7 linked regions of the Homo sapiens genome follow. The protein of the gene in region 2 purifies or fractionates together with the protein of the main gene of each other region. This does not show direct contact. Each region holds a gene or a part of one and is shown on either strand. Other genes may lie near its edges. The genes, in order: GID4, GPS2, CYTH3, DAPK3, PPFIA3, PPFIA1 and ACTR10.

Region 1 (3,500 bases), about 11 Mb from region 2:
CTTTTTTTTTTTTTTTGAGACAGGGTCTTGCTCTGTTGCCCAGGTTGGAGTGCATGGTGATCTTGGCTCACTGCAACCTCTGCCTCTCTGGTTCAAGTGATTCTCTGTGCCTCAGACTCCCAAGTACCTGGAACTACAGGTCTGTGCCACCATGCCCGGCTAATTTTTTTTTTTTATGTTTAGTAGAGATGGGGTTTCACCATGTTGGCCAGGCTGGTCTCCCTACCTCAAGTGATCTGCACACCTCAGGCTCCCAAAGTGTTGCGATTACAGGCATGAGCCACCGCGACCAGTCAGTAACTTTTCATTGTTCCAATTAACTAAGAGGCTTAAAGAACTTAAAAGCTCATTTTTTATAGGACTGATGCTTATCTCAGAAACTGTTAAACTTATGATGAGGGTGGCAGCTATATTCTTATTATTTTTTCCCCCAAAAAGGATTAAAAATAAAATCAATAGTGTTGGTTGTGACAATTATGATGTACTTATAAACTTTTCTTTAAAACATTTGTGAATCTGTACACTTCTCAACAGGACACACTGAAACTGCCTGTTTTATGTTCCCTATACAGTAGCAATGCTCAGGAGTAGTCTGCTTTAATTAGGCCTCAAGGAGTTGAGACCGCCTGCCCTGAACCCCAATGAGCCTGTGGAGCACACCACAGACTTTCTAGTGCTGGTTTGTGTGAGCAAGTGCTTACCTCAGTAAGGCCTTTAATCTTCAAGTACCCACAAAGGTAAGAGTTCCCCGTGTCCACGTGCTGAAAAGAAAGGATACACAGCCTGTCACAAATAGATAAACTTACTAGGGGACATGCAGGAGGGTACTCTGCAAATCCTGTGAGGCCAGACTGGTGGTCAGTGAACACCCAGGGCAGTCCAAGGCTCACCCAGTCTCTGGAATCTTGATAAGTTCTCCCCACACACATGCCTGTTCTGCCAAAGCAAACTGATCCCAAGACCCTCTCAACTTTCTTCAGCTGAATATCATGAGACTGAAGTGTCTTTCTGAAATGGGGTGCCCACTCAAATTCATTTTCTGTACTATCTTCAACACACGTCTCCCGGTCATCTAGAGACCTTGAGCATTGCTGGGCACAGGGCCTCTGTCTCTGCCTGTACACGTGGTGTCATCCCTAACCTCAGGCTTGACTTTCTTTCTAATGTCTTTCAAGCCTTTTTCTATTTCTGTATTGCTCAATCATTGGTCTAGGAGGTCTGCTCCTCTTCTAGTTTTTACACTAAACATCATCCTGCATTATCTCTTTATGAAATGGGCAGACTGTTCAGAAATGGCATCTTATAAAGATTTATGTGGTATAAACTTCAGTTATGAACCAAAATGCCAACCAAAAGTCTGACTATATTGTGAATGTTCACTCTGTGCATTTTATATATGGATGCTGTGTTTCTTAATGAAAAGAGTCAGGAGCCTAAAATAAATAGAAATAACAGGCATAGTAGACTTTGAGGTTTAGCAGTCACCAATTACTGGTTGCTGAGACACTGCCGGATGCCTACCCAACAAACAATTTCCTCCTTTTTCACGCTGGCAGGGTCCAGTTTTTGCTCTGGTACCTACCTACCACGTAAGACTTGGTCAACCTGATGGATCTAAGGCACACAGGTGTCCCTATCCCCTTGCAAGTCATGTATTTAGGGGTGAGTGACCCATTTCTGGCTCATCAGATGTGTAAGTCTCCTGAGTGCATCTGTGAAAAATCCCTGGCTTTTGAAGAGGCGCATGAGGAAGAAATGGCTTTTTTGTCCCCTAGTGGTGACAGTATCCGCATGGAGTGTCCAGTCCTGGGGGAGACATCTAGACCACAGGGGAGAAACAGGCCAGGAAATGCTGAGGATGGTAGTTAGAAAGATGGAAAAAACTGGGCCCATCGTAGGCCTCTGAATTAACCAACCTGAAGCCACGTCACCTCAAAAATCCTCCTGATGTGAGATTTCACCCAAATCTATACAGACTCATTCTGAATAGGGAGTTTCAGATTTCATGACAATTGGATTCACTTACAAGGTAAATCCTTGAATTAAAGCAAACCAAGTACAAGGGTACCTGTGGTACACTGAGATTTTAATGTTAAGTGAGGTCTTATTTCAAGAAATTAGAATAGTTTTGTGGCATTTATCAGATTTGTGAACCTGATTACTTCCAATTATACCATAAATCAAATACTAAGCCATGCTTAAAAACTGTAATGAACTTAGTCAACCAGATGATGTCAGCACCAAAGCAAATGAACTTCAATGAAGCCAAAGTGCCTTCACAGTTTGGTGCTGGTGACAAAGGTATTCCCTGTGAAAACTGCCAAAGCATTTTAAATATCCTCATCTGCTGACCTTGGCACTGGACATTATCTAAAACAGCTAATCCACGCTAACATGGTTCAGCAAAGAACTTTTATTAAAGGACACATAATTCTAACCTGAGTCTTTAAATTTCATGTATGCAATTCTCATTGAATTCAATATAGTTTGGAGTTTCACAGCTGCTGAAAAGTGTATCAGGTGGCAAGGATACTTGCTAATAAGATTAAAAATTGAAATGTAAATTGGCTAACATTTTGCATGGATTATCACATGCTCAAGAATCAGAATTTCAGCTTGGCCTCCATTCAACCAAGCGTCTCTCTACTCTGCCCAAATTGATCTTGATAATGGTTGGTGAACTCAAATACACCACAACGCATACAGCTTTTACCAAACGGCAGGCGAGCATCTCAAGAAAGATAACAGGGCACGTGTTTAGCAAGAAGGTGTCACAGCACAGCTGTGTCCAACGGCTGTTCTTTTAAATATTCCTTTCACAGCGACCAGGGCTCCCTTCTACTGCTGGCTTCTTAGATGGCAGAGGAGGAAAGAGGAGTCACAGTAAGTGCGGGGTGGAGAGGAGACCCAGTCAGAAACTCACAAAGGTTTGAGGAACTCTTTACACTAGAATCACAGAAAAGAAAGTACTCCAAAACAACAACAACAACAAAAACACAAGAAAAGATGCACAACAGCACAGTCATTATAGAAATTCAAATCAAGACTACAGTGAGAGACCACTTCAAAAACACTAGGATGGCTACAACAAAAAAGATGAACAGTGAGTGTTGGCGGGGATGTGGAGAAACTGGAACCCTCACCCACTGCTGGTGGAAATGTAAAACAATGCAGGGCCAGTTTCTCAAAATGTTAAAACCCAGTTACCATGTGACCCAGCAATTGCACTCCCAGGTAGTTATCTACCAAAGTGAAATATACATCCACATAAAAACTTGTACATAAATGTTCATAGCAGTATTATTCATAGTAGCCAGAAGTGGAAACAACCCAAATGTCCATCAACTGATCACTGTATAAACAAAATGTTGTATATCCATTCAATGGACAATTGTTACAATGAACAATGCAAAATAAAAAGGAATATAAGTGCTGATACATATTACCATATGGATGAACCTTGAGGACATTATGCTAAGTGAAGGAAGCCAATCTCAAAA
Region 2 (4,021 bases):
ACTTGCTGTGGACCTGCCAGCCATCCCCCCACCCTCCAAGCAACCTTGACCTATTCCAGACAGTTGGGTGGGAGGCAACACAAACAGCAGCAGCCAGGGGCAGTGGCAGGTAGATTTTATTGGCCTGGGACACACAGGGGATACCCTCACCCACGATGGGGTGGGGGGTGTGGTGTTGAAGATATAATCTGATGGTCACTTGTGGTAGAATCGCGGGTTCTGGCTGTGTTGGATGAAGGGGAGCCGAGGGCCAGGTTGGCTGGTAGCTGCAAAGCCCGACTGGTGGTGGTGATGAAAAGAGGGCTTTGTCACTGGGCATACTCTCCCTTCCACTTAATACCCTACTGATAACCACCCCCAAAGAGGAAGGAAAAACCAGATGATGTGGGCCACCTGTCCTACCTAATCCTGCTTTTCCGGATCCCTAGTGTAGGGATTCTGACAGGTAAATTCTATTACCATTCTTACCTTTCCTGCTGGCTGCATCTGCACAGGGAGCTGGGGGGAAGCAAGGAGTCCAGGGGCTGGATGCAGAGCCTGGGGGTGCATGGGGCGCAGAGAGGACTGCAGAGAACAGAGTCAGGGCCTGAGGCATACTGAAGCTCCCCTTAACATATCCCTAACCCTGACCTCCCAAGGTGCCATACTCACTGAGTCGGAGAAGCCAGTCTGCTGGTTAGCATGTTCCATCTGCTTTTGCAAGGACAGGGCACCACCAGGCTGGAGGAAACCTAGGTGGGGAAGAGGGGCATGTGAGATGAGAATGAAACAGGGAGGGGAGGACCTGAGAGCTAGAGCTCCTGCATGGGATGTTATCACCTGTCTGAGTGGGCTGAAAGTGGCCATGCACAGCATAGGGCTGTGGCTGTGGCTGAGATAGGTACTGCACTGCAGGGAATGCCGAAGGAGCTGAGAAAGGAAAAGACAGAGCCATTAAAATCTTTTACTGAATGGCATTCCTCCTTTGACCTTGAGGAAGGCCAAGCCCCATCCCTCCTATTACTCACCTCTGAGCTGCTGACTAGGACTATAAGCTGGCTGTGTGGGCCCATAGTGAGGTGGGGGCTGAGCAGTCCCATAGGCACCACCAGGACTGCCTTGGAATTGTCCATGCTCTGGTGTCCCTGCAAAAGCAGCTGCTGAGCCCACGTAGTGCCGGGTCTAAGGAAGGAGAATGAGAACTCGCCTACAAACTCCTTGAAAGCTGAAACCCAGTGACTTGTGTGTATCTGTATGCCCCGTTTCCCCCTAAACTTAAGTGCTTGATATGTTTGTGACTTGAATACTGGTGGCAAGGATGCATGGATGGAAGTACTAGGGGCTAGGCATCCAATCCTACTCTCACCGTAAGCACTTGGGGTCCAAACATTTGTTTGGCTCTGTCAGCTGCCATGAGGGTGCCTGGGCGATTGTGTCCTCCAGGGCTCCCTAGAAAGGGAGAAGGGCTTCATGATGCTGAAATGGGAGGCTGTGACCTCCAAGAAGGCCGGTTCCATCTGGTGGTTTCTTTAGTCCTCACCCTGCATGCTGAGGAGATGAGTTCCTGTGTGAACAGTCAGGCTCTGCTGGTATGCAGCTGATGTTAGGGTGGTCAGGTCACTGGAGTGAAAGGAAGACAGGTCAAAGTCAAGGACAGATGCCTTCTCTTTTGCCATTAAACACTGGTTCTTTTACTACCTGATCCCAGTTCCACTTGGCCCCCATTTCAGTTTTTAGCACTCTGATCCCACCTCTGTTCCTTTCGCCTCCGTTTTTCTTCCTCATGTAAAACTTTCTTGAGCTGCAGGAAAAGCTGGTGCTTCTCTTCCTGTAGAGCCAAAAGCTTCTCCTCCAACTTCAGAATCTGGGATGGGGTGGGAAAAGAAGATGAAGGCAGGGAGAGTCAAACGAAGAAATCAAAGCTGGGAAAGTTCAAGGGACTGCTTACTTGTTCCTTGGTCTCCTCTAATGACATTCTCTCTTCCATCTCCTTTTTCTTCCTTCTCTCCTGTTCTTCCTTCATCTTCTGTTCCATCATCTTATCCACCTCTTCTTCCTCTGGAGAATCAGGCAGAATGAAGAAGAGGCAGGGTAGTGAAAACAATTCCAACGTTACAGATTGAAGACCAGCAAAACCCAGTCATCCCAACACGCCTGTATGCTCTTTGCCTCGAGGGGACAAGCTCCCCATCGCGGCAATAGGGAACGGAAAGGCTTTATCAGGTGCTCTCCAAGGTCCTTCCCATCTCAAGGGTTCTGGAGCGTGGAACAGGACGCTTAAATCCCACCACAACGGGGCTATTCCTTCCCTCCTCTGCGCTCGGCAGCGGGCGCGCTGGTTGGCCGGTGGGTTGAGGCCAGCCTTGAGGTACAGGAGCCATTCTGGGCCGTGCGTCCCCCTGCTATGGCCCCGGCTCACCCTGCCGCTTGCGCTCCCGCTCCATCATAATGTGCCGGTGCAGCGCCCTGGCCATGGCGTTGGAAAGCTTGGGGCGCTCCAGGAGTGCGGGCATGGTGCTGCCGTGGGCGCTCGGGCCGTGGGCGCCCGGCTGTCTCTGACTGCCAGACCTCAGACGGGGCCTGCGGGGAGGCGGGCGCTCAGAGGGGGCCGCGCCCGGCCCAGGCGGAAGCCCGTCCGCCCGGCCCGCTCGCCGCCCCGGTCACGTGTCCCAGGAGCCCGCCACCCGGCCGGGACCGCAGCCCCAGTCCCACCGCGCGCGGGCGGCGCCGGGGTCCCCGGCTCGCTGCTGCCGCTCCCTGCCCAGCCAGCGCGGACGACTGCCCTTCCTACCCGCCTTCTCTGCGCTTTCTCAGCGGCTCCGACGCGCCCTGGCCCCTGCGTCACATCCGGCGGCCCGGCCGAGTCCTTCCGGAGTCACGGCGGCGGCCGACCTCACAGGTGAAAGAAGGCGGAAGCGCGCTGCGACGGGTGCCCGCGGCGTACAAACCCCGTCGCCGGGAACGTGAGCGACGACGGCTGCAGACTGGCCTTGGCATCCTCAGCTCTCTTTAATTTCGCGGGCCCACCTGGTGGCACCCCAGGGGACGCGGGCTCCGGAGAGGGGCGCGCGAGAGAGAGGCCGAGGCGGAGGCTCTGAGACGGTGTTTATTGGCTCCTTAGAAATCAGAGTCAGTAACAACTGTACAGAGGCCCCCATCTTCCGTGCGCCCACCCTTCCCCACTCCCGCCCGGTGGCCCCGGAAAAAGCAGCTTCATGTGGGCACAGGGAGAGACTCCTCTGGGATTCACAGTAACCAGAAACAAAAACGGAAATAAATTAAGTGATGTGGGGTAGGGGAGTAAAAGGGAGTCATGTTCCCCAAATCAGTGCATGAAGAGGGGTACCAGGGCCTGGAGCTGGGCTCCCACGACTCCTCCCATCAGACGGAGTGCTGGGCCTCCGGACATGGAGCTGTGCCACTTGCCACCTACATCTGAGAGCCTGCCTACATGCTCCTGCGCGGCTGCCAAGCTCCAGCACCTGCGCATGCCACGAGTCACGGGAATGAGGTGGAGGCAGTCGCCACTCAGAGTCCATGGGCCCGCGGCCCGACTGTGCTTGTAGTAGTGGTGTCTCACCCCTCATTCCACCCGTACCAGCAGGGCACAGAGGAGTGTGGCCCCCTTCTCCTTAGTGACCCACTCAAGTTCGGCTGGACTGAAGTGAGGGTCAGGAGGTTCTCCAAGGGCAGCGGAAGGGGGTCCCGGGGTGTAGGAGCCAGGGCGCACACACACCTGGAACGCCACCTGAGCCTGGTGCGTCCGCTGGGATTTGGGGTCCCGGAATCTGTCAGACAAGAAAAAATAAGGGAGTGAAGCCTCTCGCCCCATCACCTCCCCCTTGCAAAGTCTGTTCCAACCACACAAGCCTTGCTGTACCTAGGAAATACTCCCACCTTATGGGAACTTCGCTCTAGCTGTTCTACCTGAAATGCTCTTCCTCCCAAAGCCTGCTCAGCTACACCCTTCACTTCCTTCTTCAAGCCTTTGCTCGAATCTCTCCCACCTTCTTAGGATGTCCACACCAACCGCACTGCTGTC
Region 3 (3,500 bases), on a different chromosome or scaffold from region 2:
GCTTCCTTGGGAAAGTCAATCAGACATGGAGGTCTTCTTTGAGAAGCTTTCTAGTCATTGTCATTGCCAAAATAAATGTGGCTTCACAGGCCACGGCAAGGACAGGCCTTGTCCCAGACAATAGCTCCTTTCTAGGAGTTTGCGTTTTAAGTCCGAGTGTCTTGGCATATAATAGGGTCCTGAATAAAAATGTCTTTGTATTTGAAAGGTAATTCATGGAAATTTTTCTTCTAAGGTTACCCTTCATTCTTGGGAAAATCAGATAACCCAGAATTGGTCTCTGGTTGAAGAATAAGGATGTATATTATTTGGACCTTAGTAATCAGCCTGCTGGATAAATGTGGAATCGTAATCTAGCTCTAACTACTTCATTTTATCAGTGAGCACACTGAGGCCCAGGGAAGTTGGAGGCTTCCAGAGGTCAGTCTCATTAGTAGGGGTCACATCAAGGGAAAGGGGGTCTGTCCCCTTGGATGCATTTGGCTTCTCTGAGTGCCCTGAGTCAGTTCTGTTCACCCCCGGGCTCTGTCCATGGTGCTTCATCTCATTCAAGGTGATACAAGTGATCCTGAGACCACTGACCTAAACACACCTGAGCTTCAGCCTGAGACCACCGATCTAAACACACCCGAGCCTCAGCTTCTCCCTGGGAACACAGGCAGTGTTGAAGGAGGAGGCAGGTGACAACTGTTTGCATGGCAGGGCTGAATAGTGCAGTTAAGCGAACTGAGGACTCATGGCTTTCCTTTTGCTGGGCTTTTTTTTTTTGTTTTTTTGTTTTTTTTAAAAAAAGAGACCAAGTCTTGCTCTGTCACCCAGACTGGAGTACAGTGGTGTGATCATGGCTCACTGCAGCCTCAAACTCGTGGGTTCATGCAGTCCTCCCTCCTCAGCCTCTCTAGTAGCTAGGACTACAGGCATGTACCACCACACTCAGCTAATTTTTCTGTTTTTCTTTTTTGTAGCAATGAGGCCTTGCTACATTGCCCAGGCTGTTCTCAAACTCCTGATCTCAAGCGATCCCTCTGCTTCAACCTCCCAAAATGCTGGGATTACAGGCATGAGCCACTGCTCCTGGCTTGGTTTTATCTTTTCACAGCTGTGATATTCCCCCCCCAGTGTGCTTGCCTGATTTTATATACAAATACCCTAGGATCTGCAGAGTGGACCCCTCTGAACCTGGTATCTGATGAAAAGTGAGCAAAGAATTTTGTGTTCTCCTAAGTTGTGGTGGCTTTGACTATGAAGCTCTAGCTGTATTGATAATAGTATTGGTTTTTCCATCCCTGTGATGCTCCGGTGAGACCGCAGGGAAGCTTGTCACAAGAGAACTAAAATTTCTGAGTCTCAGGGGAGGAAGGTTAAGACCCACTCCCCACCTCGAAATTCTTCTTTTTTGACAGAGGCTGAAATATGAAATTGCAGAGGTGATGACAGAGATCGACAATCTAACTTCCGTAGAGGAGAGGTAACAATTTGTGGCTACACCTTTAAGCTATTTACTCTTTTCTTTCTACCTCCATCCTGTAGTCAAACTTGCAGAAAGTGGGGTGAGAGTGGTTGGGATGTGGGGAGCCTGTGGAGTTGTTAATTCCTCTCCTCTCCCCCTACTCTGCGTGGAGGGGTCCAGGGGTGTTTCCCTGGATGTTACCTCCCATTGCCTCCTCTGTAAGTCATCATCTGCCTTTATAGGTTCAGGCATAAGCACAGGCACTTCAGGGTTGACCCGCACAGAAATTACCTGCCTGCGTCATAAGGAACTGTGCTTTATTAAAATCACTGGTTTGCATCATTAGCTTTTTCTGAAGTGTCTCAAGTTATCAAATGTGAACAGCAATGGTGGCTGCACCACCCCTGCCGCCACTGCGGAGACTGGGGGCCCCTCCGTGAGGGCCTGTGCTTCGCTTCCTTGAGCCCGTTGTTGCGGGGGAAAGTACACTGGAGGGCCGTGACTGGGCTGCATTGTGAAAACAGCATGAGTGATTTTTAAATTATTTCACACCAATAGCAAAACGACTCAGAGGAACAAACAGATAGCCATGGGAAGAAAGAAATTCAACATGGATCCCAAAAAGGTAAGAGAATGCTCTCCCTTTTCTGGCCTGCAGGAGATGGACTAATTGATTTGAACTGCCGTTTCCCTTTTGGACAGAGGTCAGAGGTGGTCCGCCCTGTCACCTCATAAAAGACTGGGAGTTGAAGGCACATTTTTATCAAAAAGGGGCTTTTCGCGAGTGGGGTGAAGCAGAAGTGCCTTGTAGGGCTGGTGCCCTGGGCAGAAAGGCCTTTCTTTCAGAGTGAGCTGCTGGGTGAGGAAGCAGCCTCACAGGCACGGCTTGGACGACTCAGCACAGGCCGGGCTTGGCTCCAGGCAGTGCCCTTGCTGTCGAGGCTCATATTCGCATCTTCCCGCTTGACCTGGGTCAGGGAATCACGTGACTAGGAAGGAGCAGGGGTGGGAGTGGAACCCTGGTGTCCAGAGGTTACGGACTTTATAATCTGGGTGGGTTAAGTGGTTCACATAAGAGGACTTTATTCCTCCATTCACCTTAAAAAGCAGGTGTCTGTGAAAAAACAAGGGATCCTCCACATTTAAGCCAGCATCTTTCTCTTTCCTCAAGTTGGATTTTCTAGGGAGACACTCGAAAACCGTGAAACCTGAAACATGTAGCTGCTTGTTTTTGAGACCGAGCTAAGGGATTTGGCAGAATCTGTGAAGCTTTTTGGGGGACATTTTGGTTTTGAGAAAGAAGGGTAGACCTGAGTCTTCAGGGTTGAGGAGAGGAACGGCGTGTCCACGGGAAGGTCTCGCTGCAGAGCTGGTTCACGCCACTCCTGTGGTCTTCAGTCGGTCTGCACTTTTTTTTTTTTTTTTTTTTTTGAGATAGAGTCTTGCTCTGTCACCCAGGCTGGAGTGCAGTGGCACGATCTTGGCTCACTGCAAGCTCCGCCTCCCGGGTTCACGCCATTCTCCTGCCTCAGCCTCCCGGGTAGCTGAGACTACAGGCGCCCGCCACCACGCCCGGCTAATTTTTTGTATTTTTAGTAGAGATGGGGTTTCACTGTGTTAGCCAGGATGGTCTTGATCTCCTGACCTCATGATCCGCCCGCCTCGGCCTCCCAAAGTGCTGGGATTATGTGCGTGAGCCACCGTGCCTGGCCCAGTCGGTCTGTACTTCTAACGTTCCCCTTGCTTTTCTGGCATTGAGCCTCTGTGCTAATGAGTTAATTATTTGTTCCTTCGATAAATATCTGATTGCAGAATTCCATTGTACAAGGTCTAAGATCTGTAAACTCACATAAGTGCAGGTGCAGTTGCAGGTGATATTTACAGAAGTGCATGTCGTTATTTCCTGCTCACGGTTTGCAGGTCTGGGACTGCAGGTATGCGCCACTGCACCCAGATAATTTTTTTTTTTTTTTTTGAGACAGAGTCTAACTCTGTTGCCCAGGCTGGAGTGCAGTGGTGCGATCTCGGCCCACCGCAAGCTCCACCTCCC
Region 4 (3,500 bases), on a different chromosome or scaffold from region 2:
TGGCCAGTGTGGGGGTGGGGATGGGGCGGGGAAGAGCCTGGAAGGCACCTCCTGCGCGTGGGGGTGAGGTGTGGGGAGCGTGGGGGTGAGGTTTGGGGAGCGTGGGGGTGAGGTTGGGGGAGCGTGGGGGTGAGGTTGCGGGGAGCGTGAGGGTGAGGTTTGGGGAGCGTGGGGGTGAGGGTGGGGGAGGCCCGTGCTTTCCCTGCTGAGCCTCCTCCCACCCCAGCCGGAAAACATCATGCTGCTGGACAAGAACGTGCCCAACCCACGAATCAAGCTCATCGACTTCGGCATCGCGCACAAGATCGAGGCGGGGAACGAGTTCAAGAACATCTTCGGCACCCCGGAGTTTGTGGGTGAGGCCCTGCCCAGTGGGCAGCCCCGGCCTGGGGAGGGTGGTCTGGGGCTGCCTGCTGTGCGTGGGGTGGGTCATGCCCGGTGCTGGGTGCCGCGTCCTCGGCCCTGAAGCCACCCCTCTTGGGCCCGGCTTTGCGGGAGGTCTGGGCCTCCATTTGGTGCAGCCCCGCTGTCCTACCCGTCAGGCCCTGAGGGCCAGCTCTGCCGCATTCATGCCCCCAAGGGCTGCGACATGTGAGAACCTTGACCCCATGCCTGTGTCTTGAGCCTCTTCCTTGGCCAGCATGTCCCCAGTGCCTGACCCACATCTCCCTGTTCTGCAGCCCCAGAGATTGTGAACTATGAGCCGCTGGGCCTGGAGGCGGACATGTGGTGAGTGTACCACCTGCTCCCACCGGGCCTCCCTGCATTCCTGGAGCGCAGGCCAGTGCTGCAGCTGGGGATGAAGCGGGGCCTTGCTGCTGTTGGGGTATGGGGGGACCGTTGCCCTAGAACAGGGGCGCTGGACGCCACGGTCCTGGGAGGGTGGGCGGCCCCACGCTGCGCTGACCCTTGCCTCTTGTCTGTCCCCAGGAGCATCGGTGTCATCACCTATATCCTGTGAGTACCTGGCGGGGGCCCCCTCGGCTGTGCAACACAGCTGGCATGGGTCCCCGGCTCCGTGTGTCTCATGTGGACGCCAGGGGTCCCCAGCCTGGCTGTGACCCATCGCGGGTACTCAGGGGATACCGGGTGAACGGATGAGTGATTCTCTGTGGCTGCTGTCACAGAGGCTTCTGGAGAGTTCTGAAGGCAGGACACTCACAGAGCGGCTGAGCAGGCTCCGGGTTGGGGGTCGTGTGTGCTCCTGTCCCTCTGGCTGCTAGGGAGCCCAGCCTCCTCTCGAAGTGCAAGGAAGGGGTCCGACCCCACGCTGGGTTTTGGCTCCTGTCCCTGGGCCACACGTGGGCCTGCTGTTGTTTATTATTTTTATTTGTTGAGACGGGGTCTTACTCTCTTGCCCAGGCTGGAGTGCTGTCCTAGCTCACTGCAGCCTCCACCTCCCAGACTTAAGCAATCCTCCCACCTCAGCCTCCTGAGTACCTGGGACTACATGTGCACACAACCATGCTCCCATGCTCGGACTTTTTTTTTTTTTTGATGGAGTTTTGCTCTTGTTGTCCAGGTTGGAGTGCAGTGGTGCGATCTCAGCTGCTCACTGCAACCCCCACCTCCCAGGTTCAAGCGATTCTCCTGCCTCAGTCTCCTGAGTAGCTGGGATTACAGGCGCCCACCACCATGCCCAGCTAATTTTTGTATTTTTAGAAGAGACGGGGTTTCACCATGTTGATCAAGGCTGGTTTTGAACTCCTGACCTCAGGTGATCTGCCTGCCTCGGCTTCCCAAAGTGCTGGGATTACAGGCGTGGGCCGCTGCACCCAGCTGGCTAATTTTTTTTTTTTTTTTTTTTTTTTTGAGACAGAGTTTCGCTCTTGTTGCCCAGGCTGGATGAAGTGCCAAGGCCCCGTCTCAGCTCAGGCTTACTGCAACCTCTGCCTCCCGGGTTCAAGTGATTCCCATGCCTCAGCCTCCCAAGTAGCTGGGATTACAGGTGCCTGCCACCATGCCTGGCTAATTATTTGTATTTTTAGTAGAGACGATGTTTCACCATTTCGGTCAGGCTGGTCTTGAACTCCAGACCTCAAGTGATCCGGCCGCCTTGGCCTCCCAGAATGCTGGGATGACAGGTGTGAGCCACCGTGCCCAGCTGGCTAATTTTTAAAAGTTTTTGTAGAGGTGGAGTTTCACTGTGTTGCCCAGCCATATTGAATGGGCATAGCTCATTCAGTAAGCAAGGAAATAAACAATGGCGTGGGCCCAGCCCGCTGTAGTGCGTGAGCGGACCCAAAGGCTTCAGGAGATGGGCTAGACCGTTTGTATTCTTTTTAAATGTTCAGATAATTCAGACTTACAAAGGAGCAACAGAAACAGCACAGACGCCCCCTGCAGCTTCCTCCTCCTTCAGTTTACATTTTTCATGAACACGAACGTTATGAACACCAAGACGTTAGCCTTGGTGCTACGCTAATCACAAAAGTGCTAGATGGGCCGGGTGCGATGGCTCACGCCTGTAATCTCAGCACTTTGGGAGGCTGAGGAGGGCAGATCACGAGGTCAGGGCATTGAGACCATCCTGGCTAACACGATGAAACCATGTCTCTACTAAAAATACAAAAATTAGCTGGGTGTGGCAGCGGGTGCCTGTAGTCCCAGCTACTCAGGAGGCTGAGGCAGGAGAATGGCATGAACCCAGGAGATGGAGTTTGCAGTGAGCCGAGATCGCGCTACTGCACTCCAGCCTGGGTGACAGAGCGAGACTCCGTCTCTAAAAAATTTAAAAAATTTAAAGTGCCAGAGGTGGTTAGACACCCCCGTTTTCCACTCCTGTCCTCTCTGAGGTCCCCACACGGCATTTAGCCATTCAGCTCCTTCGCCGCCTCCAGTCTGAGGCTGTTCCTCTGTCTGGCTTTCATGACCTTGACCCTGACTTGTGCTCACGGGTCAGGTGTTTTGCAGAAGGCGTCTGAGTCCACGTTTAGTCTCGTGCGCTGTCACGATCAGACGATCAGACGGGGCTTCAGTGTCTCTGCTCAAAACCCCAGGGATGATGCTGTGTCACCCTCCCAGCGTCAGGCTGGGAGGCAGACGCTGTTGGGGCCTCTCACTGCCGGGCTGTTGACCTTGATCCTTTGGCTAAGGTGTTGGCTCGGGCTCCCCACTGCAGTTACCCTCCCCTCGGCGTTACTGAGCACTGGGGGCTTTCGGGCTCTGCGTCTGCACAGATACTTCGAGTCTCCAAGGAGACTTCTGCCTGTTCATTTCTGCTGCTGTCAGTGGCGGGGTGGGGGGGTGGATTTTGAATGCCTCTTGGGTGGTGTCTGGGATCGTTGCAGGAAGGTTCTAAGGGCTCAGGAGTGTGAGTGGCCCAGGCACCTGCCGTCAGCCTGTCTTCTGTGCTCCGCCTGTCGTGGGCAGCCGGAGAGGCGGCGCGGCCGTGGTGGGAGCCCAGGACCCCACTGAGCCCCCACGCCTGTCTCGCAGCCTGAGCGGTGCATCCCCGTTCCTGGGCGAGACCAAGCAGGAGACGCTCACCAACATCTCAG
Region 5 (3,500 bases), on a different chromosome or scaffold from region 2:
TGTATTTTTAGTAGAGACAGGGTTTTGACACGTTGGCCAGACTGGTCTTGAACTCCCGACCTCAGGTGATCCGCCCGCCTCGGCCTCCCAAAGTGTTGAGATTACAGGCGTGAGCCCCTACGCCTGGCCCTCGTTCCAACTTTTGATTACGAGACATTTCAAACATACAGAAAATCATGTGTACCCAGTTCAGCGATTCTCAAACTTTTGCTGTACTTGCTCTGTTGTGTGTGTGGGGTGGAGGCGGGGAGTGGGGAGTACAGGTTGAGTGTCCCTTACTTGAAATACGTGGGACCAGAAGTGTTTAGAATTTCTGATTTTAAAAAGTTTTTTTTGAATATTTGCATATAAATGAAATATCTTGGGGATGGGAGCCAAGCCTAAACATGAAATTCATTTATGTTTCATATGCATCTCATACACATGCCTAAAAAGAATTTTATACAATATTTTATTTTTTATTTTTATTTTATTTTTTCGAGATGGGAGTCTTGCTTTGTCGCCAAGGCTGGAGTGCAATGGTGCGACCTCGACTCACTGCAACCTCTGCCTCCTGGGTGCAAGCAATTCCAATCCTCTGCCTCAACCTTCCGAGTAGCTGGGATTATAGGCGCCCACCACCACGCCCTGCTAATTTTTGTATTCTTAGTAGAGATGGGGTTTCACCATCTTGGCCAGGCTGGTCTTGAACTCCTGACCTCGTGATCCACCTGCCTCAGCCTCCCAAAGTGCTGGGATTACAGGCGTGAGCCACCGTGCCCGGCCTACAATATTTTAAATAGCTTTGTGCATGAAACAAAGTTTTGACTGCATTTTGTTTGTGACTTGTCACATGAGGTCAGGTGGGGGATTTTCCTCTTGTGGCTTCGTGTCAGCACGTAAGTTTAGGGCCAAGCACTGTGGCTCACACCTGTAATTCCAGCATTTTGGGAGGCTTTGGATGGCCGATCTCTTGAACCCGGGAGTTCGAGACCAGCCTGGGCAACATGGCAAAACCCCATCTCTACTAAAAATACAAAAATTAGTCGGGTGTGGTGGCGTATACCTGTAGTCCTAGCTACTCAGGAGGCTGAGGTGGGAGGATCCTTTGAGCCCAGGAGGTCGAGGCTGCAGTGAGCTGTGATTGTCCCACTGTACTGCAGCCTGGGTGACAGAGAAAGAGTGCATCCAAAAAAAAAAAAGTTTAGAATTTTGGAGCATTTTGGATTTTGGATTTTCAGGTTGGGGATGCTCAGAGACCTGTACTTGAATGTAATTGGAGAAAGTCATAACATCTTAGCCCCCAAAATTACTTTAGTGGGTCTTTTTCTTCCTTGTAAACACCACATCCTTTATCACACCTAAGGGCATTCACATTGTTGTTAATTTCTTTTTCTTTTCTTTTCTTTCTTTTTTTTTTTTTTTTGAGATGGAGTTTCACTCTGTCGCCCAGGCTGGAGTGCAGTGGTGCGATCTTGGCTCACTGCAACCTCCGTCTCCCTGGTTCAAGTGATTCTCCTGCCTCAGCCTCCTGAGTAGCTGGGATTAAAGGCACACGCCACCATGCCCAGCTAATTTTTGTATTTTTAGTAGAGATAGGGTTTCACCAACGTTGGCCAGGCTGGTCTTGAACTCCTGACCTCAGGTGATCCACCCGCCTCTGCCTCCCGAAGTGCTAGACCACTCTCAGCCTAATTTTTGTATTTTTAGTAGAGATGGGGTTTCTCCAGGTTGGCCAGGCTAGTCTTCAATCTCCAAAAGTGATGTGCCCGCCTCAGCCTCCCAAAGTGCTGGCACTACAGGTGTGAGCCACCACGCCTGGCCACAGTTGTTAATTTCATTTACTATTCACTCTGTATTCAAATTTCCCCAACATACTTAAAATATGTTCATTGTTTCTCCCCCACTAGGACGAAAAGTGTCTGTCGTGTCCCTTGCCATATCCCACACCCTATGACGGTGACTGGTGCCTGACACTCACCAGAAGTACATAAATGTTTTTATCCTTGTATGGATTCCTAACTCGTGAGGTTGTTGGGAGCAGAAGCTCAATAAATGTGAACCCCCCCCGCCATACTCCCTAAACATTTGCACCATGGCTGTGTCTGTCCCCCACTTCTGAATCCTCATTCTGTACCTCTGTGTGAGGTCAGCGAGGTGACGTCATTTGCACAGGGCCACACAGCAAAATGCATGGCAGGGTCCCAATTCCAACCTGAATTTGTTCAACTCCAAAGTCACATTGCCTGGTACATGGCAGGTGCCCTATAATAAGAATCATTCCTTTTCTCTGTTACTGCTTGCCCCAGAAAGCAGGAGGGACATAAACGTGTGGCCCAGGGCCTTCAGGAGGACACCCTCCTTCCTCTCCCCCACGCGAAGCCCTCTCCCACCATCCATTAACACTCCCTGCCCCTCAGTCCACAGGAAACGTGTGGATGACACACGAGGAGATGGAGTCCCTTACGGCCACGACCAAGCCCGTGAGTGCCCCCTGCCGGCCGCCTTGGGGGTGGCACTAACCTTCTTTGGGGGTGGGGGCGGGGACCGAGTCTGTGGCCATCCCTAAGTCCGCTCCTTGCGTCCTCCTCTGCCTGCCCCTTAACTCACCCCTTCTCTCCCCTCTTCCTACTAACGGGTCAGGAGACCAAGGAGATCAGCTGGGAGCAGGTAGGGGGCGCGGGGCGGGGCGTGAGCGCATGAACAGGCTGTGCACGACGCATGGATGCCCCTCCTCCGAGCCCTGCCCCTGCCTTCACCAGAACATGCCATCATCCCCATGGGGGGGCGCTGCGCCAAGCTTGGCTCTGGACTGTTCCATTATGGCTTGGCGGTGGGGAGGGTAGAGGGGATGCGATGTGGAAGCCCAGACTGTTGCATAGTCAGCCTTATGCATGGACCATTTCATCATCGTGGGTTGTGGGGGCTCTAAGGGGCTTCAATTCTGTAGCTCAGGAGAGACTGAGCAGCCGGTGTCCCTATAGTGGAGGGGGCGGGGGCTACAGTGGACTGCTCAGTGTACCAGGGCCAAGGAGGACACACTGGCTGTGGTGGTGGTGAGGCAGCCAGGCTGAATGAGAAGTTGGGGAGGAGGAGCTACACTTTGTTCTCAAGAAACAAGAGGCGGCCGGGCGCAGTGGCTCACGCCTGTAATTCCAGCACTTTAGGAGGCTGAGGTGGGCAGATCACCTGAGGTCAGGAGTTTGAGACCAGTCTGGCCAACATGGTGAAACCCTGTGTCTACTAAAAATACAAAAATTAGCCGGGTGCAGTGGCTAGCGTATGTAATCCCAGCTACTTGGGAGGCTGAGGCAGGAGAATCGCTTGAACCCAGGAGGTAGAGGTTGCACTGAGCCGAGATTGCACCATTGTACTCCAGCCTGGGTGATAGAGCCAGATTCCATCTCATAAAAACCAAACAAATAAACTAACAAAAAAACCCAAGAGGCATGAACTCACTGTCCACGGAGGAATTATGTTTGACTGTGGTCATAGATCACATATTTCCAGCCAGGGGGAGG
Region 6 (3,500 bases), on a different chromosome or scaffold from region 2:
TTTTTTTTAAAGTTTCTTTCTATTCGAATAACTAGCTGTCTATAATCAGGGTGCCAACTGAACAATGAGTGCAGACACAGACAGGTTTGGCGTCACCTGTGTGTTCTGCGTCGGGATCTGTAACAGCAGTGCCAGTGCACTGAAGTCGAAGGTTTCATCTAAGGCCAGAAGTGCTCCGTGAACACCACTCTCTATAAGATTGTTTGCATATTCTTTAAGGCCAATTGACAGGATCCAGCGAATCACTCGATCATTGCTCCAAACAAGCACGTCTGCAAAAGAATAAAGACAATTATAAAAGTGGCTTCAGAAAGCCATCTTTATCACATGTACCCTGTAATGCAGGAGAAAGATTCCTACCATGGTTCCTAATCCTTCGGCTCCTGAGAAAAGTGCTGGGAGACACTGCTAAATAGACAACCATTTGCTGCACTGAGACAATGGTGTCCTGGCCCTGCTCCACTCTCAGGGAGACTCTCCCATTAGAACTCATCCTTCCAGTGAGCACGAGAGGAATGAAGTTATTATTTCTAGAGAAAAGAAGATGATGAGGATCCAGGGATCAGAAGCCAGAGGACTGCAAGAACTTGAATACCTAACATGTATAAACATGCTTCACACACAGACTGGAGAGTCTTCTGAAATACTTCATCACGGATGGAGCTGGCTCCATAATAATATGAACACTTTGCTCAATTCAACAGAAACCTCTCATTTCTAATCTCGAAGTCTTTGTCTCATTTTAAAATGAGAGAAACTTAACAATATCATCCAGCACATTAGAGACTTTGCAGAAAATCTTTTTTTTTCCTCTCTTTTTCTTGACAATGTCCTGCTCTGTCACCCAGGCTGGATACAGCCTGGTACCATCATAGCTCACTGCAGCCTCAACCTCCTGGGCTCAAGTGATTTTTCCCACCTCAGCCTCCTGAGGAGCTGGAACTACAGGCGTGTGTCACGAAGCTCAGCTAATTTTTTTGTACTGACAGGGTCTCACTATGTTCCCCAGGCTGGTCTTGAACTCATGGGCTCAGACAATACTCCTGCCTTGGCCTCCCAAAGTGCTGAGATTACAGGCATGAGCTACCATGCCCAGCCACAATATCTTATGCAAATTAACAAATTATTCAATTTGCTCTATTAGATCTAAAAATAGCCACTCTAAAAATATATGCAGATGATCACCAATCACTTCCAAAGACACTTCCAAAGATCTTTGTCTATTGGAAAAAGATGTAAAATAGATACAGAAAACAAAACAGATGGACATATTTCATTGCCAATGCCCTTTTCTGGATAAAAGTCCATACATATACACACACTGTATAAATGTCGACTTACGACTTTTCTCCTGATTCACATTAACTCAATCACAAGTAGACTTCCCTTCAACTGGGCCATCTCCCAACCATATTTTTATCCTTAGTTTCTTTCTTAGTATAAAGTGGGGATGAAAACAGCACTTAGACTGACAGGGCTAAGGTAAAGATGAAAGAAAGCAACCCCTGAGTACTTAGAACACCACCTGGCACCTACTCACTGTTAGTAAGACTGGCCTCTTCTTATCATTATTGTTATTGGTGACTTCCTTGCATTCCAGGAATTCTGGGAGTCATTACTCTGAGCTTAATGTTTACTGTCTAATTTTAAAAGCAAATTCTGACTGGGTGTGGTGGCTCACACCTGTAATCCCAACACTTTGGAAGGCCAAGGTGGGAGGATCCCCTGAGCCCAAAAGTTCGAGATCAGCCTAGGCAACATAGCGAGACCCTGTCTCTACAAAAAAAAAAAAAATTCCAGGCATGGTGGAGCACACCTGTACTCCCAGGAGCTACTAGGGAGGCTAAGGCAGGAAGAGCACTTGAGCCCAGGAGTTCAAGGCTGTAGTGAGCTGTGATCACACCACTGCACTCCAGCCTAGCCTGGGCTACAGAGCAAGACCCTGTCTCAAAATAAATTAAATAAATAAATAAACAAACAAACAAATAAATTTGAGTACGAGTGAGGGACTCCCCAACGGAGAAGAGAACCAACTCCACGTCTTCTGGATGAATGTCTCACATCCTCTAACGCCTCCCTGGCCTGTGTTTTCCAACTGAAATGCCTTTTCCTTACCCTAAGCAGCTCCTCCTCCTTCTTCAAGGACCAGCTGAAATGCAGACGCTGCCTCTCCTTCCCCTCCGGGAGCAGAACTGCACGGTGCTCTCCTGTTCTCCTGAACCCCTTGGATAAGCCCCCAGTCATATTTCTCACACTTGAATCATCAAGTGAGCTTTGCTCTGTTGTTATCTAACAGTGTGGAACAGCATTTCGGAGTGAAGGAGTACACAGGGCATGACCAAAGGAAAACTCTCAACTCACAGGAAACGACTAGCCGGAGACATTTAACCTCCAGACTGATGTGTGAGAACACAGGGAACAGTTCTCTAGCTGTGGAAGAGAATCTCAAAAGCACTCAACTTCATCCAGCCCTCCTCTGCAATGACACTAGACTAGTTAGTTTTCTCCACTTAAATTTAGCCTTTCTTGATTTTTTGAAAAATAGGAAGTCACTGAGGCTCCAAACACACCAGCAAGTAGGAGTAAACCGAATCAATTAAATGTCATGTACTAACCTTTTATTTCACTCTGACTTTCTTCTCTTTTTCTTTCCAGTTCTTTCCGGTCATAATTTAACCTTCTCAGGCACATAATTCCACACTGGAAACTGTTTCTATTTGGAAGAAAAGAGAGATGATTTAGAGATGGTAACAGTGAAAAATCTTAGCCAATTATTAAGAACTATCTCCATTAAGTTACCTGTGAAAACTGTCGACCATTTTCAGCTGCCCTCGAAGGTCTTTCTTGGTCAAGTGGTCCAGCATCCTGGCGTCTACAAGGCACTCCATGAAGTAGCTGCGGTACTGGGGGAGGCCCAGGCTGGGGAGCCACTCGTTGCCGATCCACTCGTGGTTCATGTCCCCATAGGCGAGTGTCTGCTTTTCATAAATGGAAAAGGTCAGTTACAGAGGAAGTCTCAAAAGTAGTTTATATCATTTTTAAAATGAATTTTTAATCTATTACCTATATTCTCAAAGGCTAAACTAATGATAATTTTATAATTGCAAAATAATTTGATCTCTTCTCACCTTTTAAATTTGTTAGTAAAATTTTTATACAACAGGAATAGTAACATGAAAAATATATGATTCGTTGTGATAAATTTAACTTTTAAATCAAACTACAAAAAAACTGTAACTGGCTATAAATTTCCTCTCTGAGATAGTTTTTAGTATAATAATGTGACAAAGATTGATCACGACTCATGAACAAGTTTGAAGGCTCAATTCAACACTGCTCACTAAAATTATCTCTGGTTGGTTTACATTTTAACACTTTGTTTTCCTAAAGAAAAAATCCATTTCAAAATCAGTAAAAGTCAGTTAAAATATAGTTTTAGAGAAGAGATAAAGCAACAACCAACAGGACTAAATGGGGAAACAGGCAAATTCACAATTATA
Region 7 (3,500 bases), on a different chromosome or scaffold from region 2:
GTTCTAAATTGTTGGGGAGCACTACCCCTAGGAGGAAAAGCTCTTCACAAGTAAGTTTCTTGGAATTTAACATATTCATTTCACCTGTGCCACAAAAACAGTTGCTAATCTGTTTGTTGATCAGTGATCAATAGAGGGCTTGTGATACGGACAGTGAATTTTATTCATTCCGCCCTCTATTAGCTTCGAGTATATTCATTTTTTAAGAATAAACCAGTTTTTTAAATTTTTAATTTTTGGGGGTACATAGTAGGTGTATATATTTATGAGGTACCTGGGATGTTTTGATACAGGCATGCAATGAGAAATAAGCACATCATAGAGAATGGGGTATCCATCTCGTCAAGCATTTATCCTTTGAGTTACAAACAATCCAGTTATACTCTTTACATGATTTTAAAATGTACAATTAAGTTATTATTGTCTACAGTCACCCTGTGGTGCTATTAAATAGTAGGTCTTACTGTTTCTATTTTTTTGTACCCATTAATTATCCTCACCTCCCTTGTATCCCTCCACTATCCTCCCTGGCCTCTGGTAGCCATCTTTCTACTCTCTATGTCCATGAGTTACATTGTTTTGCTGTTTAGATCCCACAAATAACTGAGCACATATAATATTGGTCTTTCTATGCATGGCTTATTTCACTTAACATAATGATCTCCAGTTCCATCAATGTTGTTGCAAATGACTGGATCTCATTCTTTTTTATAGCTGAATAGTATTCCATTGTGTATATGTACCACATTTTTTTCTTTTTTTTTTTAACTTTTATTAAGTTTAGAGATACAAGTGCAGGTTTATTACATAGGTAAACTTATGTCATGGGGAAGACCTTTATTATTATTATTATTATTATTGAAATGGAGTCTCGCTCTGTCACCCAGGCTGGAGTGCAGAGGCATGATCTCGGCTCACCGCAACCTCCGCTGCCTGGTTTCAAGCGATTCTCCTACCTCAGCCTCCCGAGTAGCTGGGACTACAGGCGTGCGCCGCCACGCCTGGCTAATTTTGGTATTTTTAGTAGAGATAGAGTTTTGCCATGTTGGCCAGGCTGTTCTCAAACTCCTGACCTCAGGTGATCCACCCGCTTCAGCCTCCCAGAGTGCTGGGATTACAGGCGTGAGCCACCGTGCCTGGCAGGAAGATCATTTTTATTTAAATCATAATAATCGGGCTGGGTGTGGTGGCTCACACCTGTAATCCCAGCACTCTGGGAGGCCAAGGCAGATGGATCACCTGAGGTCAGGAGTTCAAGACCAGCCTGGCCAACATGGCAAAACCCTATCTCTACTAAAAATACAAAACTTAGCCGGGCATGGTGGCGGGCACCTGTAATCCCAGCTACTCGAGAGGCTGAGGCAGGAGAATCACATGAACCTAGGAGGTGAATGTTGCAGTGAACTGGGATTGCGCCACTTCACTCCAGCCTGGGCAACAGAGTAAGACTGTCTCCAAAAAAAAAATCATAATAATCTATTATGTAGTTGAAAGTATCAAATAAGGATATCAGTTTCAATATTTTCATTCCAGTAACTTTTTTTTTTTAATTTCAGAGAGTTGGAAACTCAACTATTGGAACAATGTACTGTTGACACAAGTGTTGCTAAAGAACAGAGCCTTCCCTCAGTGATGGGTAAATTCATTTTAAGTGGTTTAGGAGTGGTTTACACTCTCTTTTTGTTCTTCAACTTGTATTTTAGTCTTTGCTCCATTGCATGATTATTCTCTTTTCTCCCCATGCCACTCTGATGGTACTGCTTCAACTATAAGCTCACCATTGAACTTTTAATCACTAAATTCAATAGTTTGATTTTAGTCATCCTTTCCAGAACTTTTGACATTGTGGATCATCATGTACTCTTGAATGCTTTCTTCTCCTTGGCTTTCAGGATTCTTTTTTTTAGTGGTTGTCTATTATTTCCCCAAATATTCCTCTGGTTTCCTCTGCTCTTGCTTTCTCTACTTGTATTCGACTAGGGATCTAGTGTTTGTTCCTTCTTTTTCTCTACTGGCTTTTTAACTGTGATCTTATCTACTCCCACAACTTCTACATCTGCATGCTGTTGATTCTGAAATGTGTCACTGGGCCTGATCCTTCTTCTGAACTTGATATTCATATTTCCAACTGATTATTAGAGACTGTGCATGTCTCTAGGCACCTCAAACTTAAGATTTCCAAAAGTGAATACATTATGTCTTTCCTCAAATTCATTTCAATTATTAGATAAAGGTAATATTTTCCTTGTCTCCCGTTTTACAAAACTGGAAGTTAGCCTTTCAATTCTTCAGAAATCTCTTTCAGATCTCATTTTTCTTTCTTTCTTTTTTTTTTTTTTTTTAACCTTCCACACCATTGAACACCCGAGAGCAAAGACATTGTTTTAATCTAGGCCCTCATTTCTTAGATTATTACAGAAGTCTACTCTGGATGGATTCGGTCTGTTTCACACTGTTGCCAGGAATAACTTTCCACAAATATTTTTATGTTTTTGAGACAGGATCTCACTCTGTTGCCCAGACTGGAGGGCAGTGGCGCGATCTTGGCTCACTGCAGTCTCCACCTCCTAGGCTCAAGCCATCCTCCATTCTCAGCCTCCTGAGTAGCTGGGACTACAGGCGCAAGCCACCACACCCAGCTAATTTTTGGGGGGTACATTTTGTAGAGATGGGGTTTTGCCATGTCGCCTAGGCTGGTCTCGAACTCCTGAGCTCAAGCAATCCACCAGCCCCCGCCTCCCAAAATGCTGGGATTACAGCCTGAGCCACTGTGCCCAGCCAATTTTTCACAAAATAAATATAAATACATTGCTCTTTTGCTTGAGAATTTTTGTAAGCTCCTACAGGTTAAAATCCAAATTATCTGTTGGATATAAATGTTTCTTCAAAATCTGAGTTTGTTCTACCTCTTATCCTTAGGTCACTAAACTTTATCCTTTGCTCCTTATTAAAGCTACAGTAAATTTCTTACAGTTGTCGAGGCACCGTGAGTCCTAGCACAGCCCTGTGCCTTCATTTATTCTTTTTCTTTCCCTGGGATGTTTTTCTTTGCCTAGTTTGGTTTTTGATCCCTCTGCATGACTCAGCTGGAATGTCATCTTAATGGTGAAGCCTTCCTCATCTTCCCTAAGCAGAATAAATTGCTCCTCTCTGTTAAGCCCTTGGCAGTAATTTATTATAGCACATATGACACATTCTCATTTGCCTCTTAACTCACTTGTTTCCCCCAGGAGACTTTGAGGATCCCTGTCTTATTTATTTTTCAATCTGCAGCACCTAGTATAGTGCTAGGGCATTGAATATATGTTGGAAAGCGAGATTTTTGCGACACTTAGGCATACCTATGTTTTCCTGTTGTTCCCTATTGATAGTTAAGTTAATAGCATTTTTCATTCTGTAGATCCAATTATAGCTTTCAAATTCCAGATAACTTTGTGATGTCTTAGTATATTTTGGTGACAGGTAATTTATAAAAGGTCTTCAAAGATAATAAATTCAGT

Evidence for each region.
Region 1: the proteins of GPS2 (region 2) and GID4 purify together in Homo sapiens (affinity purification with mass spectrometry; 3 studies listed by BioGRID and IntAct, with this or other methods). This does not show direct contact.
Region 3: the proteins of GPS2 (region 2) and CYTH3 purify together in Homo sapiens (affinity purification with mass spectrometry; 4 studies listed by BioGRID and IntAct, with this or other methods). This does not show direct contact.
Region 4: the proteins of GPS2 (region 2) and DAPK3 purify together in Homo sapiens (affinity purification with mass spectrometry; 4 studies listed by BioGRID and IntAct, with this or other methods). This does not show direct contact.
Region 5: the proteins of GPS2 (region 2) and PPFIA3 purify together in Homo sapiens (affinity purification with mass spectrometry; 3 studies listed by BioGRID and IntAct, with this or other methods). This does not show direct contact.
Region 6: the proteins of GPS2 (region 2) and PPFIA1 purify together in Homo sapiens (affinity purification with mass spectrometry; 4 studies listed by BioGRID and IntAct, with this or other methods). This does not show direct contact.
Region 7: the proteins of GPS2 (region 2) and ACTR10 purify together in Homo sapiens (affinity purification with mass spectrometry; 3 studies listed by BioGRID and IntAct, with this or other methods). This does not show direct contact.

The regions. Positions count from the first base shown.
Region 1 is NC_000017.11:18,042,408-18,045,907, reverse strand, and holds part of GID4 (glucose-induced degradation protein 4 homolog), read right to left. Parts: intron 762-3,500; coding exon 702-761; intron 1-701.
Region 2 is NC_000017.11:7,312,561-7,316,581, forward strand, and holds GPS2 (G protein pathway suppressor 2), read right to left. Parts: upstream 2,801-4,021; 5' UTR 2,771-2,800; intron 2,560-2,770; 5' UTR 2,493-2,559; coding exon 2,399-2,492; intron 2,038-2,398; coding exon 1,928-2,037; intron 1,844-1,927; coding exon 1,731-1,843; intron 1,600-1,730; coding exon 1,520-1,599; intron 1,429-1,519; coding exon 1,346-1,428; intron 1,162-1,345; coding exon 1,008-1,161; intron 910-1,007; coding exon 820-909; intron 732-819; coding exon 652-731; intron 565-651; coding exon 469-564; intron 280-468; coding exon 196-279; 3' UTR 101-195; downstream 1-100. Other genes in the region: NEURL4 (neuralized-like protein 4), read right to left, coding at 3,563-3,767. UniProt on the Homo sapiens protein: Key regulator of inflammation, lipid metabolism and mitochondrion homeostasis that acts by inhibiting the activity of the ubiquitin-conjugating enzyme UBE2N/Ubc13, thereby inhibiting 'Lys-63'-linked ubiquitination.
Region 3 is NC_000007.14:6,185,625-6,189,124, reverse strand, and holds part of CYTH3 (cytohesin-3), read left to right. Parts: intron 1-1,403; coding exon 1,404-1,468; intron 1,469-2,008; coding exon 2,009-2,075; intron 2,076-3,500. UniProt on the Homo sapiens protein: Promotes guanine-nucleotide exchange on ARF1 and ARF6. Promotes the activation of ARF factors through replacement of GDP with GTP. Plays a role in the epithelial polarization.
Region 4 is NC_000019.10:3,961,100-3,964,599, reverse strand, and holds part of DAPK3 (death-associated protein kinase 3), read left to right. Parts: intron 1-226; coding exon 227-356; intron 357-680; coding exon 681-729; intron 730-930; coding exon 931-957; intron 958-3,087; exon of another isoform or gene 3,088-3,186; intron 3,187-3,438; coding exon 3,439-3,500. UniProt on the Homo sapiens protein: Serine/threonine kinase which is involved in the regulation of apoptosis, autophagy, transcription, translation and actin cytoskeleton reorganization. Involved in the regulation of smooth muscle contraction.
Region 5 is NC_000019.10:49,143,544-49,147,043, forward strand, and holds part of PPFIA3 (liprin-alpha-3), read left to right. Parts: intron 1-2,399; coding exon 2,400-2,462; intron 2,463-2,622; coding exon 2,623-2,649; intron 2,650-3,500. UniProt on the Homo sapiens protein: May regulate the disassembly of focal adhesions. May localize receptor-like tyrosine phosphatases type 2A at specific sites on the plasma membrane, possibly regulating their interaction with the extracellular environment and their association with substrates.
Region 6 is NC_000011.10:70,371,690-70,375,189, reverse strand, and holds part of PPFIA1 (liprin-alpha-1), read right to left. Parts: intron 2,998-3,500; exon of another isoform or gene 2,979-2,997; coding exon of another isoform or gene 2,976-2,978; coding exon 2,800-2,975; exon of another isoform or gene 2,714-2,799; coding exon 2,616-2,713; intron 273-2,615; coding exon 97-272; intron 1-96. UniProt on the Homo sapiens protein: May regulate the disassembly of focal adhesions. May localize receptor-like tyrosine phosphatases type 2A at specific sites on the plasma membrane, possibly regulating their interaction with the extracellular environment and their association with substrates.
Region 7 is NC_000014.9:58,213,649-58,217,148, forward strand, and holds part of ACTR10 (actin-related protein 10), read left to right. Parts: coding exon 1-50; intron 51-1,556; coding exon 1,557-1,636; intron 1,637-3,500. UniProt on the Homo sapiens protein: Part of the dynactin complex that activates the molecular motor dynein for ultra-processive transport along microtubules.